2 separate regions of the Homo sapiens genome follow, and region 1 is linked to region 2. Evidence: fine-mapped expression QTL. Tissue or cell type: fibroblasts. Region 2 holds a variant in brackets; the other region holds the start of a gene. All regions are shown on one strand. Distances are between the middles of the regions. Region 1 holds the start of A4GNT (alpha-1,4-N-acetylglucosaminyltransferase). Region 2 overlaps DZIP1L (DAZ interacting zinc finger protein 1 like).

The links. PIP is the estimated chance that this variant, and not a neighbour inherited with it, causes the effect.
Region 1: A4GNT starts here. The variant in region 2 is fine-mapped to the expression of A4GNT in fibroblasts (GTEx, PIP 0.93).

The regions. Positions count from the first base shown.
Region 1 is chr3:138,131,081-138,133,953 of GRCh38, forward strand. It overlaps A4GNT (alpha-1,4-N-acetylglucosaminyltransferase), which reads right to left and starts at 1,310. Exons shown (of 3, transcript NM_016161.3): 1 at 1,132-1,310; 2 at 1-202. The coding sequence starts at 176.
Region 2 is chr3:138,108,607-138,111,524 of GRCh38, forward strand. All of the region lies in intron 1 of DZIP1L (DAZ interacting zinc finger protein 1 like), which reads right to left. Among named protein-coding and RNA genes, the nearest start is that of DZIP1L, 5.5 kb to the right of the region's middle. The variant G/A (reference allele first, on the strand shown) is at 1,593.

The DNA.
Region 1 (2,873 bases), 22 kb after region 2:
TCTGAGGTCTCTAGAAACACAATGCCACGTCTGTGGCTCAGGAGGGCTTCCAGCCCCTGGTGGGACTTGAAAGAAGGCAAACAGAAGAGGCAGCTGGACTTCAGGGTGAACTGGTAGAGGAAGCCACAGACAAGCAGCAAGGTGACTGACAGGGAGAGCTGGAGCTCCTTCCGCATGTCCTCTTCTCTGTGCCAGCCTGCTCCTTTAAATCAACACAATTAATTAAAAATCACAGCTGCAAAACCTGACAAAGATAGCACACAAGAAAATGATACATGAATATCATTTAAAAACTTAAATTTTAAATATCCTAAATAAAATATGATGAAATCAAGTCCAGCAATATTAAAAAAAAAATGCAGCCAGGCATGGTGGCATATGCCTGTAGTCCCAACTACTAGGGAGGCTGAGGCAGGAGGATCCCCTGAGTCCAAGAGTTCAAGACTAGCTTGGGCAGCATAGTGAAAATCATCACAAAAATTTAAAAAAAAAGAAAAAGAAAAAGACAAGAAATATGTGAGAAAGAAAAATGCATCATAACCAATCAGGATTTATCTTAGATTTTAAAATGATTTGACATTAAAAATAATTAGTTAATAGGGAAAACTATTGATAAAATGCATTATCTTAACAGTCTAAAGAAGAAAAGCCATATGATCATTTTGGCTCAAGAGATGCCAAGAATGTGACTAACTTTAAGATCCATTCACAATTTTTTTAAAGTACAAGGAAACTTTCTTAAGCTGATTTTAAACAATGTCTACCAGAACATATAGCAATTATCATACTTAATATGAAACATTTGAAACATCCCATTAAGATCAGGAATATGATATGAATGTCCATTGTCATTGTCACTGACATCATTGGTTACAATCTGATAATTGTAACCAATGCAATAAAACAAGAGAAATGAATTTCTACTACGAATATTAAAAGAGGCAAAAGTATCTCTAGGTTCAGAAAACATAACTGAAAAACTAATAGAACTAAGAAAAAAAATTAACAAAGGAAGCAAACTGAAGGCTAAAGAGTTAAATAAATTGCCAAGATCACACGATTAGCAAGTAGCAGAGCTGTGACTGTAACTTGCATCCACCTGCCACCAAAGTCCAGGCTCTGAACCGTTACCTGCAGTGCTTTCCTCACCAAAAATGTTAGCTCTAACCAAGGAGAACACAGATCTCACGTCTTGGCAGGTCTATCTTTCAAATTACATATAACCCTTTTAGAAAATACAAAACAGTGAATCAGAGCCTAACTTCTAGCTGCAAATGCAGTTAACCAGTATTTGAGGTCTTAGAAATGACAAGTTCTTCCTGCTACACTTTCTGATAAATCACCACCCAATCTTCCAACTCAACAACACAGGGGTAAGTAAATCATTGGCAGATTGAGACTAAACACAAAAAGTTCCCAGGAAGCTCCTCCCTTTACTAAGTTCTCCCAAACACAGCCACTTGGGAACAAGAGGGGTTTACCAGATTTTTAAGGTGACCCACACACTAATCCTGCCTGTTTGTGGATCTATTATGGGGGTTATAAAGGGATTATTTCACCTGGAGAAAACTGTATCCTGGCATAACCTTGGAGCCAACATATCCTGCACTTGATCAGTTTAGCTTGAATCAAAATTATGGACAGAGACCCTGTAAGGTGGTACAAACTCCCCTTTGCAAGCACAAAGTTTGATTAAAAGGAAAGAGAGCCCATCACCACAAATAAGCAATGAACAAAGCCCTGCAGTCCAAAGGCCCAGTGATCTAGAATGAGAAGTGATTCCCCAGTGTCAGTCACAGTGGCTGCAGGAAGGCTCCTTTTTCCCCAAGGTCCCCCTTATGGGGTATAAGCCTCGTCCCAGTCTCAGGAAGCCAGCTTTGTTGTCCTCCACTGATGTGGCAGTCCCCACATTTCCCAAGGTGTTAGCACTCACCTGTGGCCTATTCTCCACCGCCCCTGAAATGAGCTCTTAGCAATCTTCTTTGGAGCCATCCTCTGCTGAGAGTCACCTGTCTTGGCCATGAGCAGGTATTCACAGTTCCCCCTGGATGCTCTAGTGTGAGCAGGTAGGCCTGCTCCTGAGCAGACTTTAGATTCTAACATAGCAGGTCCTACATGAAGGGAGTTAAAGCTGCCCCACTCATTGATGGCTTCTGGTTTTCTATGTGTCCAAGGACCCCAGAAACAGCTTGTAGGTCTCCACAAACCTCTTCCTTTTGGAGCTGAATTTCTTCTCTGGACCTCATTAATTCTGGGCTCAGAGTGCCTTGGCATCTTTCCAAAGTTCTCTGTAATTGGACAGATTGGTTGTTCTTTCCTATGAAGGGGAGTGGAGATTAGTGCTCCTGCTCCTTGCCCAGGGGTAACTAGAGGACCCCATCTGTGGGAGTGATAACACATTCCTGGGCCTCAGGTGGGTCACATATCTTAGTGCCTCCCAACTGCTAGCCCAGTGGCTAAAACTATTGAACAAGTGGTCAAGGCAGAGATCAGTGATGTAGTTAATGGCCTTTGTCAGGTGAGGATGAATGTGAGCATCAGCAATGCAGTGAAATCCCAAGCACAAAAGTAGGACCTATCTGACCAAGAACCAAGTAGAAAGCATGATGGAAGTAGCACTGAGCTTGGAGTTATGCCTCCAGCCACCACAGGCTGAGGGCACTAGACAAGCCCCTAAACTGCCCAGAGCCTCAACTCCCTTGAAAAGTGCAGAAAATGACCGACCTCAGGCTCACTGTGAGAATGAAAGTTCTCTTTAAACCAAAGAAGTTATTGTCACTTTCTACCAAGGAAAATAGAAGAGAAAAATAGAATTATATCAATATGGATGGTATTTGTACTCCCTGATAACAAACATTAAGTTGTTTTGTTTT
Region 2 (2,918 bases):
CACAGCTTCAGCTACTATAGGCTTGCTCTAGGCTGAGCCTCAGTCACCCCCAAATCTCTTTCTCTCTAGCCCCTCGGTCTCTTGTGATCTTATACCCAACCATTCCATACTGATAATGCCAGGAATTGCAAACCCAAGTTCCACCAGGGCCAGAAAAGTAACATTAAATGCACAAAATGTAGCAGATATGAAAGAAACCACAGTACATGTGTGATGATAAATGGCAACTCATTCTCCATCTTATTGTCCAAGGTACAATAAGGCAGTGGTTCTCAAAGTGTGGTCTCTGGACCAGCAGCATCAGCATCACCTGGGAATTTGTTAGAAATGCAGATCCCCAGACTTACTGATTTAGAACCACTAAATCTGTGGAGTGCTGGGCTAGGAAACATTAGGGATTGTGGCAAACCTGAGAGTGCAGGCCCTGTTTAAGGTGGGAAACCACTATTGAGCTCCAGCCACAGGGGAATGGATTTTGTGTTCCTTATTGGCTAATTCCAAATACACTGAGTGATATTCAAAGACTTTGATGAACTGCTTCCAAAAGTACCTCTCTAGCTGCATCTCCCATTTACCATATTACTTGCCTTCCACACTTTCACACTTCTGGGCTGTTTATTTTATGTATAGACACTGTTTTTAAATGCTTTACAAAGAAGCACTCATCTATTTCTCAGGACAAGCCCTTGAGGAGGTACTATTATCATCTAAGCCACAGAGAAATAAAGAAGCTTGCCCAAGATCCAGAGGCAAGATTCACACCCAGGCAGCCTGGCTCCAGTCTGGGCTAGCCTCTATTCTATGCTGCCTCTTGGTATAGATGGTCCTTTGCCACCTCCTTTTGTTCCAATTAAAGGTTGACACATGTTTCAAGGCCCTGCTTATAAATGATTACCACCATATGGGAGTGTAAATTAGTTCAACCATTATGGAAGACAGTGTGGCGATTCCTCAAGGATCTAGAACCAGAAATACAAATTGACCCAGCAATCCCATTACTGTGTAGGTACCCAAAGGATTATAAATCATTCTACTATAAAGATACATGCACACATATATTTATTGCAGCACTATTAACAATAGCCAAGACTTGGAACTAACCCAAATGCCCATTAATGATAGACTGGATGAAGAAAATGTGGCACATATACACCATGGAATACTCTGCAGCCATAAAAAATAATGAGTTCATGTACTTTGCAGAGACATGGATGAAGCTGGAAATCATCATTCTCAGCAAATTAACACAGGAACAGAAAACCAAACACAGCATGTTCTCACTCATAAGTGGGAGTTGAACAATGAGAACACACAGACACAGGGAGGGGAATATCACACACCGGGCTTCCTGATATCCCAGCTCTCAGGGCTTAAAACCTAGATGACGGGTTCATAGGTGCAGCAAAACACCATGCATGTATACCTATGTAACAAACATGCACGTTCTGCACATGTATCCCAGAACTTAAAGTAAAATTAAAAATAAAATAAATAGATCCCATTTGTCTATTTCGGCTTTTGTTACCATTGCTTTTGGTGTTTTAGTCATGAAGTCCTTGCTGGAAACCATCATTCTGAGCAAACTATCACAA[G/A]GACAGAAAATCAAACACGGCCTGTTCTCACTCATAGGTGGGAATTGAACAATGAGAACACTTGGACACAGGAAGGGGAACATCACACACCAGGGCCTGTTGGGGGATGGAGGGCTGGGGGAGGGATAGCATTAGGAGAAATACCTAATGTAAATGACGAGTTAATGGGTACAGTAAACCCACATGGCACATGTATACATAATGTAACAAACCTGCACGTTGTGCACAGGTACCCTAGAACTTAAAGTATAATAATAAAAAAAAACTTCCCACAATAAAATAAATAAATAAATAAATGATTATCACCATAAATCCCTGCTACGCTCACAGTCAAAGTTCCCTGCCCCTCCCCTGGGCTTCCAGAGCGCACAGCATACACTTTGTCTGTTAGGGTGTCTCTGCAACATTCATATCTCCATCCCATCAACAAATGATTCCTGAGGCCCTACTAAGTGCCAGGCATCATGACTGGCACTCGGGATCAATGTTGACCTGGGCAACTATCCCTGCCGTTGTTAATAAAAATAGTTCACATTTCTGGAATTCTATTATTTTCCATACACAGTGCTAAGGCTTTACATGTATTATCCCACTTAATTCTCACAACAACCTATTATGCAGATGAAGAAACAGAGTGTGATCAAAGAGAGGAAACAGAGAGAGGAAACAAACAGGGGAAATGACTTTCCCACAGTCACACAACTAGTAAGTGATAGTGTCTGGCTCCAAAGTTTTTTTCTCCAGAGAGACAGAAAAATACACAGAAATTAACCCACAGAGCGGCAAGTGCCAAGACAGGAGCTGGGAAAGGGTTCTCTGGGAACACCAAGGAAGGGCCCATACCAGGATGCTTCTGTCTCCTTCCTCCCCCACTCCCCTGGCTGTGAACTTTACAGGGGCTGAGACCATGGCTTATTCGTATCTGCTGTATCCCAGTCCCCAGCCCATTACCTGGCACCCAGATTGCTACTGAACGGAGCAAAATTGTTGAAATCTCAGCATATCTGACTTAAAAATTCTGTTATTCTTAGGGTCTTGAAGTAATGGGGCTATGGACTGCCAAGAGTTAGTACAAAGAGTAAAAGCTGAGTAGGAATCCTTCATTCGGACTCATTGGAGGGAAATGCCACTCAGACTTAGTAAATGCTTTATTTGTTGACCATCTGCATCCAGAGTTTAATCCCATGGGCAAGTAATAAGAGCTGAGAGTGCAGGAGTCCCGGCAGGTGGAATCAGGCATATCAATGAGAAGTCGCAGTGCCCACGCTGACTGTCAAGATATGGCCTCAGTGTTGGAGCTTGCTTCCTGAGCAGCCCTGAAACCTT